2 separate regions of the Homo sapiens genome follow, and region 2 is linked to region 1. A link means that fine-mapping ties the variant in region 1 to the expression of a gene that starts in the linked region. Tissue or cell type: rectum. Region 1 holds a variant in brackets; the other region holds the start of a gene. All regions are shown on one strand. Distances are from middle to middle.

Region 1 (8,101 bases):
TGATCCATCTGCCTCAGCCTCCCAAAGTACTGGGATTACAGGCATGAGCCACTGTGCCTGGCCTAACAAAATATACCCTTTTCTTCTTCTTTTTTTTTTTTTTTTTTTTTTGAGATGGAATCTCTCCCTCTGTCGCCCAGGCTGGAGTGCAGTGGCACAATCTTGGCTCACTGCAACCTCTGCCTCCCGAGTTCAATCAGTTCTCCTCCTCAGCCTCCCTGAGTCGCTGGGACTGCAGGTGCATGCCACCACGCCCAGCTAATTTTTTGTGTGTATTTTTAGTAGAGACGAGGTTTCACCGTGTTGACCAGGCTGGTCTCAAACTCTTGGCCTCAGGTGATCTGCCCACCTCGGCCTCCCAAAGTGCTGGGATTACAGGTGTGTGCCACCACACCCAGCCACAGAATATACTTTTAATGTCAAAAGCTGAAAATAAACTGAGTATCTACCAGTCAGGAAATAATTGAATTAATTATGGAACATATGTAATATTCCACACTGTGGTATATTTTGCAGACGTAAGAAAGAATAAAGTGTATCTACTGGTATATTGAATGAGACTATACTATATTGAATGAGGAAAGTATGATGCTGAGGAGTACATATATCCCGTTTTTGTAAACAAATCAAAAAATTCCGTGTGTGTGTGTGTGTGTGTGTGTGTGTGTGTGTGTATATTTTTTTTTTTTTTTGAGACGGAGTCTCGCTCTGTCGCCCAGGCTGGAGTGCAGTGGCGCCATCTCGGCTCACTGCAAGCTCCGCCTCCCGGGTTCACGCCATTCTCCTGCCTCAGCCTCCCGAGGAGCTGGGACTACAGGCGCCCGCCACCACGCCCGGCTAATTTTTTGTATTTTTAGTAGAGACGGGGTTTCACCGTGTTAGCCAGGATGGTCTCCATCTCCTGACCTCGTGATCTGCCCACCTTGGCCTTCAAAAGTGCTGGGATTACAGGCGTGAGCCACCACGCCTGGCCAGTTTTTTTTGTTTTTTTTTTTTAATCCAAACTGGCCTAGACTTTAGACTGATGAGCTTCGTGTTTTGAAAAGTCCCGTGCGCTCCTTTCCTTCAGTAGTATAAGGGTTGTGTCGAGCCATTTGCGTGTGGCAAGTTGGTGTTTTCACCTTGCTTGCTCATCCTGAAACCTTGGTCTGCAGGGAGCCCACTCTCCTGGCAGCCTGGCCCTGGAGACGCTGACTACTGTGACCCAGGCTGGCTTTCTCTCTGTACTCTGGGATGTGGATGTTACTGAGCTCTGGCTGTCTCTTGGTTTCTTGAAGACATTGGTACTTCTACAAGGTGATTGGAATATTGGGGAACAGTTACAAAGTATTAACCATTAATAAAAAAAAGTTCTTCCTTCTTATGCTCCTTTTAAAAGGCATGAAAGAATTACTGATGTCCTTGATCAAAAAAATTATGTGGAAGAACTTAACCGGCACTTGAGGTAAGACTCCTTTTTTTTTCAATGTGACAGTTACATACTCGGTATCCTGTCATTGCTTCATGGAACTTCGAGTTGCCACGTATTTATAAATAACTTGTTTCCAAACCAAGACAAAAGGGTCATCATTCAGGCAACATTTATTTGTACAAACTGAAGAAGTATGATTTCTTCTTGATAAACTCTTGGGAAATCTTTATTCTGTGCTTTTTGCAGTTACATAATACACAGAAGTAACTACATTAAACCTTGACTCTCCATTCCTCGCCCCACAGCCACGTGGCTGGAAATCCCTTCATGGCAAGCACTGTTGCTGCTGGGAATCAGCACACAGCACCCAGTGCATTAGGCCAGGAAAAAAGAGTTGAAAACCACTGGGCTAGGCCCTCCAGAGCAATGTACTAGTGATCACCGGCATCTTTATCTTGATTTTTTTTTTTTTTTTTTTTTGCTGGAAATCTGTGGATGTGTTTCATGAAACACTAATCCTTGGAGGTATTTGTGGGGAATGTGGAGAGACATGTTATTCCCTTTCTGAGTCCCCTCTAGAGAGTACATTGCACATTACAGTTCTCCACAGTGGCCACCTCTCCGGCCCCAAAAGCCAGGTGAAGAAGCTGGCATGTTCCTCCCGGTGCAGTTACGGACACATTGCTCTGGGGCTGTTTTTACTTTTCTTTTTTTTTTTTTTGACAGGGTCTCACTCTGTTGCCCAGGCTGAAGTGTAGTGGCGTGATCTCAGATCACTGTAGCCTCGAATTCCCAGGCTCAGGCAATTGATTCTCCCACCTCAGCCTCCTAAGTAGCTGGGACTACAAGCACACGTCACCCCTCCTGGCTAATTTTTGTATTTTTTGTAGAGACAGTGCTCCGCCATGTTGCCCAGACTGGTCTCAAACTCCTGGGCTCAAGCAATCCTCCCACCTTAGCCACCCAAAGTGCTAGAATTACAGGCATGAGCCACCACACCCAGCCTGAGGCTCTTCTTAACTGTGATGTTGGCTATTTTTTGAAAGAGTTTTTTGGTCGATTACTAGTTTATTGAGAGTATTTATAAGAAATAGATATTAAATTTTAGAAAATACCTTTTAGTGTCCGTTAATGTAATCATGGTTTTCATCCCATAATCTACTGATGTGGTGTATTTTATTAATAGACTTCTTCATACTGGACCATTCCTGTATCACAGGAATAAACTCCACTTGATCATAATATTTTTTATTATGATTTTTTGAGACAAGGTCTTACTCTGTCACCCAGGCTGGAGTGCTGTGGTACAATCGTGGCTCACTGCAGCCTCCACCTCCCTGGGCTCCGGTGATTTGCCCACCTCAGCCTCCCAAGTAGCAGGAACTACAGGCATGCACCACTACACCTGGCTAATTTTTTGTATTTTTTGTAGAGACAGGGTCTCACTTTGTTGCCCAAGGTGGTCTCAAACTCTTGGCCTCAAGCAATCTTCCCTGGTTAGCCTCCCAACTGCTGGGTTATAGGCATGAGCCACCTCGCCCAGCCAGGATCATAGTTTTCATAATTCAATTATCCTTTTAACATGTAACCTGGTTGGGTGTGGTGGCTCACACCTGTAATCCCAACACTTTGGGAGGCCGACGTGGGTGGATTACCTGAGGTTGGGAGTTCGAGACCAACATGGGGAAACCCCATCTCTACTAAAAATACAAAATTAGGCAGGCGTGGTGGTGCGTGCCTGTAATCCCAGTTACTCGAGAGGCTGAGGCAGAAGAATCGCTTGGACCCGGGAGACGGAGGTTGCAGTGAGCCGAGATTGCACCATTGCACTCCAGCCTGGGCAACAAGAGCGAAACTCCATCTCAAAAATAAAAATAAAAATAAAAATAAACCTGACTTGCTGAAATTTTATAGTTTTCTTTCTCCGCCATCATATCAGGGTTATGTAGCATTGCAAAATGAATTAGTAAGCTTTTCCTTATGCCTGGGAACAGCTAGCTTCTAGATCATGGGCATTATTTGCCCCTTGTGAATATGAAGCAGCCAGGTGTGATGGCTCACGATTGTAATCCCAGCACTTTGGGAGGCCAAGGCAGATGGATTACCTGAGATCAGGAGTTCAAGATCAACCTGGCCAACATGGTGAAACCCCATCTCTACTAAAAATACAAAAATTAACCGGCATGGTGGCGGGCATCTGTAGTCCCAGCTGCTCGAGGCTGAGGCAAGAGAATCACTTGAACCTGGGAGGCAGAGGTTGTGGTGAGCTGAGATTGCGCCACTGCACTCCAGCCTGGGTGACAGAGTGAGACTCTGTCTCAAAAAAAAATTTATGAAGCTGAAAGCATTTATGAGGCAATACGTTGCTAGCTTTTCAGTTTTTACTTAGTTCATCTGGGTTTTCTTTTGAGGATATATCTTTTCTCATATA[AAT/A]ATATATATATATATATATTTTAAGACGGAGTTTTGCTCTGTCGCCCAGGCTGGAGTGCAGTAGCGCGATCTCGGCTCACTGCAAGCTCCGCCTCCCAGGTTCACGCCATTCTCCTGCCTCAGCCTCTCGAGTAGCTGGAACTACAGGCACCTGCCACCACACTTGGCTAATTTTTTGTATTTTTAGTAGAAACTGGGTTTCACTGTGTTAGCCAGGATGGTCTCGATCTCCTGACCACGTGATCCGCCCGCCTCGGCCTCCCAAAGTGCTGGGATTGCAGGTGTTGAGCCACTGTGCCCGGCCAGTCATTTATATTTTTATTTATTTTTATTTTTTATTTTATTTTATTTTTTTGAGACAGAGTCCTGCTCTGTCGCCCAGGCTGGAGTGCAGTGGCATGATCTCCGCTCACTGCAAGCTTCGCCTCCCAGGTTCACGCCATTCTCCTGCCTCAGCCTCCCAAGTAGCTGGGATTGCAGGCGCCCACCACCATGCCCAGCTAATTTTTTGTATTTTAGTAGAGACGGGGTTTCACCGTGTTAGCCAGGATGGTCTCGATCTCCTGACGTTGTGATCCGCCCGCCTCGGCCTCCCAAAGTGCTGGGATTACAGGCGTGAGCCACCACGTCAGGCCTATATTTTTAAGAAAAATATACAATTGGGGGGTATTTTCTAAATTATCAAGTTGGCACAGAATTGACAATTGTATACTCTTAAAACTTTCCATTCCCTCTGTATCTTTTGGTTTTTTTCCCTTTTTCATTTTGTGTCTTTGTATTTTTATATTTGTCCCCCGGTTCCTAAGCCTTGGTTCATTAGCCTTGCTAAGTTTATTTCTTTGTCCCCCACTCACTGGCAACAGGGACTGGTCTTTGGCAGCATGACCTGTTGCCCAGAAGTACAGGCTCTAGAGCCAGATTCCCTGGGTTCAGATGCCAGCACCCCTTTGTAGATATGTGAACTTGAGTGAATTCTTTTATATAAAATTATGGCTGCCTTGTCTGTAAAATGGGCTAACAGTAGGATCTACCTCATTGAATTGTGGGGAAGATTAAATGAGTTGATGCATTTAAAGTGCTTAGAGGCCAGGTGTGGAAGCTCATGCCAGTAATCTCAGCAGTTTGGGAGGCTGGGGCAGGAGGAGGATCACCTGAGCCCAGGAGTTCAAGATCAGTCTGGGTGACATAGTGAAACCTCACCTCTACAAAAAAATACAAAAATTAGCTGGGCCTGGTGGCAAGGTGGGAGGCCAAGGTGGGAGGATCATGAGCCTTGGAGGTTGAGGCTACAGTGAGCCATGATCACACCACTGCACTCCAGCCTGGGCGACAGAGCAAGACCCTGTTTCAAAAACAAAAAAAAACAAAAAAAAGTAGTACATGTTATTAAATAATATTTTTTAAATGGGGAAGGTGTAAAAGGGATTTAAAAACACCTTGGGACCGGGCGCAGTGGCTCACGCCTGTGATCCCAGCACTTTGGGAGGCCGAAGCAGGCAGATCACGAGGTCAGGAGATTGAGACCATCCTGGCTAACACAGTGAAACCCCGTCTCTACTAAAAATACAATTAGCCGAGCATGTTGACGGGCGCCTGTGGTCCCAGCTATTTGGGAGGCTGAGGCAGGAGAATCACCTGAACCCAGGAGGTGGAGGTTCCAGTGAGTTGAGCTCGCGCCACTGCACTCCAGACTAGGCGAAAGAGTAAGACTCTGTCTCAAAACAAACAAACAAAAAACACCTTGGATCCTTCTACCCAAAAATACTAATACCTTGTTAATGAATTTTACTTTAGGTATATGACTGCCAACACATTTTGGTTTCTATCACCATTTGTGTTGGGAGAAAAAAATTCTCTTTCCAGATGACTAAAAAAGAAATAGGCCGGGCACAGTGGTTCATGCCTGTAGTCCCAGCACTTTGGAAGGCCAGGGTGGGCAGCCTCACCTGAGGTCAGGAGTTCGAGACCAGCCTGGCCAACATGGTGAAACCCTGTCTCTACTAAAAATACAAAAAAATTAGCCAGGTGCAGTGGCACGCACCTGTAGTCTAGGCTATTCGGGAGGCTGAGGCTGGAAAATCGCTTGAACCCGGGAGGCAGAGGTTGCAGTGAGCCAAGATCACTCCACTGCACTCTAGTCTGGGCGACAGAGCGAGACTTTGCCTCAAAATAAAAAAAGAAAGATTAAATTTTCGGGACAAAACTTATTGAAAAGTATGTTGCAAATGTATATTTAGAATTCTCATCTTCTCTGAGTTAATTGGAGACCCTCTGCCTTTCCATTTCATACAGGAAATCTAGGAATCTCTCTTACTGTTTACAGATTGAGAAAACAGTCAGCTTGTATAAGTTTATGTTTACTTAATATTCTTATTTTCTACAGCTGCACAGTTGGGGATCTTCAAACCAAGATAGATGGCTTGGAAAAGACTAACTCAAAGCTTCAAGAAGAGGTTTGTAAGTTTTATTGAAATTTTTAGACAAAACAGAATGACCCAAGGTTAAGAGAATCTGTGTAGTCGGTCTGCGATAGCAGAGCTTCCTGCTGGTAGGAAGGGGACTTGCTAGCCTCCAGCTACCCCACGTGGGACAGGAGAATGTCTGTGTTCTGCTCTGTCCGAGGCTCCCAGTGAGACACTGCAGCGGATCACGAGCCAGTTCTAAGTGACTTAGATTTTATCACCTCAAAGTCATCCCATAGAAGGAAATTGTTCTTTGGAAGAGCCCAGCTTGTGTTGTGGAAGTGCCGTGTCTTCCTCTTTTTCTGCCCTTCCCATGATGCCGTGTGCCTCCCTGCTGCCCCAGAAAGCACAGACTCTGTCATAAGGAATAAGTATCCAGCCCACCCCTTCTGCTTTGGCCTCAGGAGCATGCAACCAGCCTCCCCACAGTGCGGTCTTTCTCTGCTTTCTCACTAGGAAGAGAGAATGAAAGGACAGGACAAAGGAGGGCTGAGCCGAGGAAGAGAGCTTGCTGCCAGCTGCCCGGCAGTCTCCTTGCTGGACACATCTTGTCTCCTGTTAGCAGGAGGGGGGTGCTCAGCCCTTCTGAGGCTTTCCACAGGTAGCAGTCCCCGGCTGCCCAGGCCTCCCACCTAGAAGGACAAGGGCTCTGAGAGGGGCTTGAGAAGGAACACCTCCACGGCATGGAGGTGGGTTACAGCAGAGAAGAGAGCCTCAGAGCCCATCTCTGTAATGAGGGACCCCGTGTAAGCCTCCCTTAAAGCTGACTGCTCCCTCCTGAGGCGCCAGCCCTGAAAGGCCTTCAGGAAAGGAGCTCAGATTTGTGTGAGTAGAAGGAAATTCAAGACGGTGTCACAGATGGGGGTGTCATGGGAGAAGCTTCATGGAACTTAGGATTGGAGGCTTCACAGTCACCTTGGTAGGCAGGCCTTTGAGCCTCAGGTCAGGCAGGTCGGTGGTTGAGCCTCACTTTTGTCACCTCCAAATTAGGTAATAATACATCCTTTACTGTTGCAAAGATTAAGACGAATATCTGGTAAATGTGCTCAGGACAACACTTGCCACGTGGGAGCACTCGAGTTGTTTGATTTTAGAACAAGCAGATTCCCTGCATCTCAGTCAAGATGGCGTGCTTTGATGAAGCTCCAATTGAGCTTTTGAAACTAAGCAGAGTTATGTGGGGTTTTTCTGCTTTTTGAGACAGGGTCTCACTCTGTCACCCAGGCTGGAGTGCAGTGGCGCAGTCATAGCTTACTGTAACCTCAGACTTCTGGGCTCAAGAGACCCTCCTGCCTCAACCTCCCAGTAGCTGGGACTACAGGTACACACCACCAACACCCGGCTAATTTTTTAACTCTTTGTAGAGACGGGATCTCACTTTGTTGTTCAGGCTGGTCTCAAACTCCTGGGCTAAAGTGACCCACCCACCTTGGCCTCCCAAAGTGCTAGGATTACAGACATGAGTCACTGAGCCCAGCTTCGGTTATGTTTTCTTTTTTCTTTCTTTCTTTTTTTTTTTTTTTTGAGACAGAGTCTTGCTCTGTCTCCCAGGCTGGAGTGCAGTAGTGACGTGATCTCCGCTCACTGCAAGCTCCCAAGCTCCACCTCCCGGGTTCACGCCATTCTCCTGCCTCAGCCTCCCGAGTAGCTGGGACTACAGGCGCCCGCCACCACGCCCGGCTAAATTTTTTTTTTTTTTTTTTTTTTAGTAGAGATGGCATTTCACCATGTTAGCCAGGATGGTCTCAATCTCCTGACCTTGTGATCTGCCCACCTCGGCCTCCCAAAGTGCTGG
Region 2 (8,101 bases), 41 kb after region 1:
CAGATACTGAGACTACAAGCATTCAAACTACTCTCACTACATCTGATTTTCAGTAAGTTTATACCACACAGGTTAAACCAAGTCTTTCATAAACCGACTTTTGCATTAAAGAGAATTAGACCATTAGATGCTTCTGGTCACATGACCCAAATACGTGTCTCTTGCAACACAGACACTTGCCATAATTTACAACAACCTAATTCATCGCACTGATGATCTGCTGGTAAAGGGATCTTACCTTTAACTTGAGGTACTTAGCTGGACACCAATGTGAGGAAAGTAGTTAAGCTGTTGAGGGCAATCCTCAATGAAAGATCTACTCTGAACTATAATACTAAATATAGGCAAAGTTAACATTTTGGAAGTACTTCATTTCCACCTTTAAGATGGGCTTAAATTATTTGAAGGTCTCTAGGAAGAAAACATTAATTCATTGGCAATTTACAACCTACTGAAATACCTAAGCTACTCAACTTTAACGTCTATTAAATCACCTTGCCATAAGCTAGCCAAAACTCACTGCTCAGCAACAAACATGACTACATACCTGAGAAGAACTGAACAATTTCTTCCTTGCTACATCCAAAGGGAAGTCCTCTAAGCCGTACAAAGCCATCATTGGCCGTGTCAGGACTATTTGGACCAGTATGCTTCAACACCCAATCCATTTCAACGTTGTTTGACTTGAATACTGAAAGAGGTGCTTAGAATTAGTCACTTTTGGAAAATTAGATAACAAAGTTCAGACTTCCTGGGTCTTTAGATAAGCTAGGAAGAGCTGCCACAAACTCCCTTAGATGACCATTTCCATGCAGTCAAATACCTAAAATTCAGAAGGGGTGAGACCTCTATTGTTTAATGCTTTATTTACTGTAACTAGGGCAATGTAAATCAAACCTTCAACATATCTGTGTCCCATAGTTTCTCTGTCTTTTTTCAGGGCCAATTTGACTTCATCTTCTGATTCAAGTTCAACAAAAGCCTCGCCACTTGGTCTGCCTTCTCTGGTGTAGATGAAACGAATACCTTGAGCCCCATTTTGAATTTTGCAGTCTGGAAAGAAAACAACCGTTAATACAGAATTTAAAACCTAAAACCACCTCTGGGTGACACAGATGAAATGTCTATTCCATGTCCCCACTACAAATTACATAACTTGTGAAGCCTATATATACTGACCACGATATTACCAACTCCTAAAACTCCAATTAAAAAAAAACAAACTCATTCCTAAGGTGATATATTTCCAACCCATCAACAACATACAATATTCAAAGCAGTTTCAGAATGAATTTATCTCTTTAGTCCTTGCTACTCATGTCTACATCACACATCTTTTATCAATTTCTCAGAAGATTATCAAGCCTGGACTGTGTGACTTTACGGCAAACATACTTCGTTGCGAGCTGTTTTGGTCTGGGGCATTTATCCGTTTTACCTTACCAGTAGCCACATTACGGTTTCTCATTCAAATTCAAATTACAAGCCCAATACTCACCTGAAAGGGGATCAGTGTTACCAAGCTAAAATGCTCCAAGTTGCACAGCTGAAGCCAAACCCAGTGTTGCCCCCTGCAAGGCGGCTTCCAGCGTACTTGGTTCTTGTTTTACAGGTCGCTTTCCGTTACCAACGCTAAATTCAGATAGTAAGTCAATACTACAAACGTCTTGCCAAAAGCTGTTAATTTCATCCAAATAGAATTTTAATCAGTCTAATTTCTTTTTCCCAGTCTAATAATAGGAACAAGGACATTCTGATAGAAAATATTCAGGAAACCTATGTACTGCAAAAACACTTCCCTGGGCTTCAGTGTCTTCAACTGTATAGTGAGCCAGATTAAGAACTAGATAAGAAAACACTCTTCAATTATCAAATCTTGATTAGGAAAACTGAAATTAAGACGTGACATTTTAACTTTCCGAAGAATGCTCCTTTTTAAGAAAACACCAAAACTGGAAACAAGAGGTTACACTTCAAGATATTGCAAAACATTACTATTATTTGTCTAATCACTCGGCCATTTTCTCAAGATTGAGGAGGAAATCCCACCTATGCCAATTTATCCTTTCGAAAAAAGACACCCGGGCCAGGCGCGGTGGCTCACGCCTGTAATCCCAGCATTTTGGGAAACCGAGGTGGGCGGATCACTTGAGGTCAGATGTTCGAGACCAGCCTGGCCAAAATAGTGAAACCCCGTCTCTACTAAAAATACAAAAATTAGCCGGGCGTGGCGGTGCGCGCCTCTAGTCCCAGACACTCGGGAGACTGAGGCAGGAGAATCGCTTGAACCCAGGAGGCGGAGGTTGCAGTGAGCCGAGAACGCGCCACTGCACTCCAGCTTGGGTGACAGAGACTCCAACTCAAAAGAAAAAGAAAAAAAGACACCCATAAAAGAAAAGCTGGTGTTCAAAGATAGGTAAAGAAAACAAAGTCTGCCAAACCTGCCGCACTCCCCCAAGGGCCAGGAGGACGGGCGGGGCTTTCGAAATTTCCATTGCGTAACAGCGGGCCGCCGGGCGCGAGCAGCACAGCGGTGAGTGTAGTCGCCCGCGCCTCGCCAGGGGGCGCCCCGGGTCCCACCCGGCCCGGCCCGGCCCGGCCCGCCCCGCCCCGCCCCGCCCCAGCCCGGCCGCCCGCCAGCCCGCCCGCCCCGGCCTCGAACTCGAACTCCCGCGTCCTAGTTCTAACTCACCAGAAAAAAACCTCTGCACTTCATCGGCCGAGCAAGACCAGGGCAAGCCCCGGACCTTCACCACGAATCCCTCTCCACCTTCCGTGCCCAACATCATCGTCTCTTACGCGGTCCGGCGTCGAAACAAACTGCAAAGCGGGGAGGACCAGAACTGAGAGCGCCAATTAAGCTGTCCTTCGCCTCCGAGGCGCGCCCGGGCCCGCACCGCCCCCCCACGGAGCAAAAACCGGGCGGATGCACCCACCCCGGCGACTCCAACACCTCCTCGTCCGGCGACCGGACCCCCAAAGCTGTCCTGAGCAACAGCTGTCGGCGCCCCGAACCGTGGGGGCCCGGGCCGAGAGCCAGCGTAGAGGAAAGGAAATGGCGGCGGCCGCTTCCGCTCCGCCTCCTCCGACTTCTCACACAATAGAGTCGGCGCGGCCTGCAGGCCTCAGCGGCGGTGCCGAGATTCAGCGAACCACTCGCGGCTCTCGACGGCAGCCTGCAGCTCGCCAAGGTCCCCGTGGCCCTCCCAGAGATATGGGGACAAACAATCCTCGCAAAAACGGTACCCACCGTGGTCGCTGAACTGCAAGCGAGGACCCACCGCGACTCACCTAGACACGCGACTTCTGCGTGGCTAAGACGAAATGGCCAGCGGGCGCCTGCGCAACCTAAATAAGGTCCCTTGTGCGAGTTCTGCGCACGCGCAGCCAGCTGCCCGCACCGCCCCGTTGCGTCACAAAGAGCTCTGGCGCATGCGTAATTTCAAGAGCCAGCCCACCTCCCGCCGGCGGATTATTACACGCTTGGGTTTTGGGCTCAGCACCCCCACCCATAAACCCGCCGGGCTTTTTGTTGCGCCTGCGCCTTCCCGCGAATATTGAACTTCGGAGTCCTAGCGGTTTATAATTATTTCATGCGCATGCGTCTTCCTTGAAACCGTTCTCTAGCCTTACCCGCCAGCGTGGGGGAGGGGAATGGCGGCCGCCTGTTCCCTATGGGACTGTATAGGAGTCCCGAGCTCTGGGTTGTGATGAGGTGGGCGTCTTTCTACCCCTTGCCCCCAGGCTCTTACCGGCGCGCTCCTGGCCGACCTGAAAGGAGGGGCGCGGCCTTCAGGCGTTCCCACTCCCCGCGCCGCCTGTCTTCCCTTTATCCCCAAACCGGCCGAAGCTGGTCAGCTGCAGATTGTCGAACGTCCTGGGAGCTGCGGGGCTGCGGACGTCCCGCGCCCGAAGCCACCCGTATGGTGCCTGGGGCACGTCCCAGCCCTGTGTGCCTCCACTTCCCCTTACCTGCCGTCGTCGGGCCTAGGGCCCCGGTCGGCGCGAGGTTTCCGTGCCTGTGGCTCGCGCCTGTACCCAGCTTTTGCCTAACGAATTCGCACCCTGTGTACCCCTTGACCCGCCTAACGGTCGGCAGGCCTTGACTGCCCTGGGGCCCTGGCACGAGGAGGGATCGCGAGCGCGGGCTCCACGGGTGCGCGCCGGCCTCTGCGCTCGGTAGGTTACCGCTGCATCTCCCAGAGCAGAATTGGTAAGAGTGCGTCCATTCACCAGGCGTAGACGCTGCATTCGAGGAGGCCCCCGGGTCACCCCATGTGCACACATGCTGCGAGATGACTAATGTTCGTGGTTTCTAGCAGCACTGCCCAAAACCTAAGATGCCGTAGCCTCCCAGGCCTCCCCATGTCTGATTTGGCTGCCTTCCTCACCCCAGCTTTAGTGGACACAGACAATACACAAATTAACAATAAGGTAGTGCTGGACCCTGCCGCAGAGCTACCTTAGCTAGTGCAAGCCTGAGTGCCACCCTGGGAAGATGCGGACAAAGCATGTTTCCAACCCCAGTGCCACAGAGTCCGAATCCAGTTTTGACAGGTTTGAGAAAAAGTAGAGAGGACATCAAAAGAAAGACAGGAGCCCAGAGCTAAGCAGGGCCTGATCTTCAAAGGCCACTTAGGCCTTGGCAAGGGTGTTATCTCCGAGAGAAGGCTTTGGCAGGTGATCAGCAGGGGAGCCGTAAACCCTGTGTAAAGGAAAACTCTTGCTGGATGTGAGGGGGATGCAGATGGAGCAGGCAGGGTGAATGACGGTACATACCAGGCCCTCTACTACAAACTGAACTAGAAGCACACACCTGTGGTACCATTTCAGAAGGCACTTTGGCTGAGGTAATCAAGAAGAGAGTCCGGCCAGGTGCGGTGGCTCACTCGTGTAATACCAGCATTTTGGGAGGCCGAGGCAGGCAGATCACTTGAGATCAGGAGTTTCAGACCAGCTTGGCCAACATGGTGAAACCCCATCTCTACTAAAGATACAAAAATTATCTATGCATGCACACGCCTGTAATCCCAGCTACTCTGGAGGCTGAGGCAGGAGAATCACCTGAACCCAGGAGGCAGAGGAAGCAGTGAGCTGAGATCACACCACTGCCCTCCAGCCTGGGCTACAAAGACTCCCTCTCAAAAAAAAAAAAAAAAAAAAATTAGCCAGGCATGGTGATGCATGCCTGTAATCCCAACCACTTGGCAAGACTGAGGCAGGAGAATCACTTAAACCCAGGAGGCAGCAGTTGCAGTCAGCTGAGATCACGCCATTGCACTCCAGCCTGGGCAATAAGAGCAAAACTCCGTCTCAAAAAAAAAAAAAAAAAGAATAGTAGTAAGGTAGAATACATTTCATACACTTATAGCCAATTCTCTTATATATAAATTGTCCAACTTATATTAAAACAAGGTTTTTAAATTTTTATTTTTTATTTGTTTGTTTGAGACACAGCCCGTCACCCAGGCTGGAGTGCAGTGGTGCAAACATGGCTCACCACAGCCTCTACCTTCTGGGCTCAAACAATCCTCCTGCCTCAGCCTCCTGAGTAGGTAGGACCACAGGCATGTGCCACCTTGCTCAGATTATTTATTTATTTATTTATTTATTTATTTATTTTTTGTAGCAATGGGGTCTCATTTTGTTGCCCAGGCTGGTCTTGAATTCTTGGGCTCAAGGAATCATTCCACCTCAGCCTCGCAGAGAAAGTGCTGGGATTACAGGTGTGAGCCACCATGGCTGGCAATGAAAGGTTTTTTTGTTTGGTTTTGTTTTTGAGACAGTCTAACTCTGTCACCCAGGCTGGAGTACAGTGGTGCAATCTTGGCTCACTGCAACCTCTGCCTCCTAGGTTCAAGCAATTCTCATGCCTTAGCCTCCCAAGTAGAGGGATTACAGGTGTGTGCCACCACACCTGGCTACTTTTTTTTAAGTTTTAGTTGAGATGGGGTTTTGCCATGTTGGCCAGGCTGGTCTGGAACTCCTGACCTCAAGTGATCTGCCTGCCTCGGCCTCCCAAAGTACTGAGATTACAAGCATGAGCCACCATGCTCGGCCAAAGGTTTTTTTAAATAAAAAGTTAATCATCAGCCCACGCGTGGGGCTCATGCCTGTAATCCCAGCACTTTGGGAGGCCGAGGCAGGTGGATCAAGAGTTCAGGAGTTAGAGACCAGCCTGACCAACATGGTGAAACCCCGTCTCTACTAAAAATACAAAAAGTAGCCGGGCATGGTGTCGCGTGCCTGTAATCCCAGCTACTCAGGAGGCTGAGGCAGGAGAATCACTTGAACCTGGGAGGTGGAGGTTGCAGTGAGCAGAGATTGCACCACTGCACTCCTGCCTGGGCAACAGAGCAGGACTCTGTCTTTAAAAAAAAAAAAAAAAATTCATCATCTTGCCTCAGTGGTCTTTATGTCTTGGTATACTTCTTTTTTTTTTTTTTTTTGAGACGGAGTCTCGCTCTGTCGCCCAGGCTGGAGTACAATGGCGCGATCTCCGCTCACTGCAAGCTCCGCCTCCCAGGTTCACACCATTCTCCTGCCTCAGCCTCCCGAGTAGAGTAGCTGGGACGACAGGCGCCCGCCACCACGCCCAGCTAATTTTCTTGTATTTTTACTAGAGACGGGGTTTCACCGTGTTAGCCAGGATGGTCTCGATCTCCTAACCTCATGATCCGCCCACCTCGGGCTCCCAAAGTGCTGGGATTATAGGTGTGAGCCACTGCGCCCGGCTAATGTCTTCGTATACTTCTTACAGTTTACAGAGCTCTTTATTAAGGCTGTTAGCCCTTAGGATAGTTGCCCCAGACATTCTTCTCAGTTTGCTTACCTTTTAATTATTTTTGTGGTTTTGTGGTGGTATTTTTTGTTTGTTTTACAGACAATGTCTTGTTCCGTGCAGTGACACAATCATAACTCACTGCAGCCTTGAACTCCTGGGCTCAAGCCATCCTCCAAGCTCAGCCTCCTGAGTAGCTGGGACTAAAGGCACTTTCAACCAGGCCCGACTAATTTTTTTTTTTTTTGTAGTGATGGGGGTCTCACTATGTTGCCCAGGCTAGTCTTGAATTCCTGGCGTCAAGCAATTCTCCCACCTTGGCCTCTCAAAGCCCTGGGATTATTCTACATGTGAGCCATGATGCTCGGCCCTGATTTATGCCTTTTTTTTTTTTAAGACAGGGTCTCACTTCGTCACTCAGGTTGGAGTGCAGGTATGTGATCTCGGCTCACTGCAACCTCCACCTCCCGGGTTCAAGCAATTCTTGTGCCTCAATCTCCCAAATTGCTGGGATATGCCAGGTGCAATGGCTCACACTTGTAATCCCAGCACTTTGGGAGGCTGAGGTGGGTGGATAACTTGATGTCAGGAGTTTCAGACATGTTGGCCAACATGGTGAAACCCTGTCTCTACCAAAAATACAAAAATTAGCCGGGCATGGTGGTGGGCGCCTGTAATCCCAGCTACTTGGGAGGCTGAGGCAGGAGAATCACTTGAACCCAGGATGTGGAGGTTGCAGTGAGCAGAGATCCTGCCACTGTACTCCAGCCTGGGCAACAGAGGGAGATTCCATTGCAAAAAAAAAAAAAGGAAAAAAATACCAAATAGCTGTGATTACAGGCATGCACCATCACACCCGGCTAATTTTTGTATTTTTAGTAGAGATGGGGTTTCACCATGTTGGCCAGGTTGATCTGGAACTCCGAACCTCAAGTGATCCATCCACCTTAGCCTCCCAAAGTGCTGTGATTACAGGTGTGAGCCACTGCACCCGGCCTATGATTGCTTTTTAATATTTGGACATATAGAAGTTTTAAATTTCTTGATGTCAAAGCCATGGATATGTTCCTTTGAGGTTTGTCTTTAAGTTTAGAAAGCCCTTTCCCATCCAGAGATTGAGCACATATTTGTTATCTTTAGTATCATTTGTAAGACACATTTTGTACAGCTTAGCCTCAATAAGATAGGAATGTGTTTTATTTATTTTCTTCTGCTTTTTTAAAAATTTGTATTTATTTATTTATTTTAGATGGAGTCTTGCTCTGTCACCCAGGCTGGAATGCAATGGCATGATCTCGGCTTACTGCAACCTCCACCTCC

Which allele goes with the higher level. Positions count from the first base shown, and alleles are read on the strand shown. Sizes are in standard deviations (SD) of each study's normalised expression.
For the expression in rectum of the gene that starts at base 3,327 in region 2, allele AAT in region 1 goes with a lower level than allele A (moderate effect, 0.53 SD a copy in CEDAR).

The links. PIP is the estimated chance that this variant, and not a neighbour inherited with it, causes the effect.
Region 2: HNRNPH1 starts here. The variant in region 1 is fine-mapped to the expression of HNRNPH1 in rectum (CEDAR, PIP 0.95).

What each region holds. Positions count from the first base shown.
Region 1 is chr5:179,579,569-179,587,669 of GRCh38, forward strand. It overlaps RUFY1 (RUN and FYVE domain containing 1), which reads left to right. Exons shown (of 18, transcript NM_025158.5): 7 at 1,379-1,444; 8 at 6,228-6,297. The region is part of intron 4 of LOC128966623 (a long non-coding RNA gene); the gene reads left to right. Among named protein-coding and RNA genes, the nearest start is that of RUFY1-AS1, 20 kb to the right of the region's middle. The variant AAT/A (reference allele first, on the strand shown) is at 3,843.
Region 2 is chr5:179,620,345-179,628,445 of GRCh38, forward strand. HNRNPH1 (heterogeneous nuclear ribonucleoprotein H1) reads right to left here and starts at 3,327. Exons shown (of 14, transcript NM_001257293.2): 1 at 3,251-3,327; 2 at 2,693-2,820; 3 at 898-1,053; 4 at 548-691. The coding sequence starts at 2,789. All of the region lies in intron 4 of LOC128966623 (a long non-coding RNA gene), which reads left to right. RefSeq lists enhancers at 3,099-3,268, 3,324-3,618, 3,368-4,153, 4,154-4,938.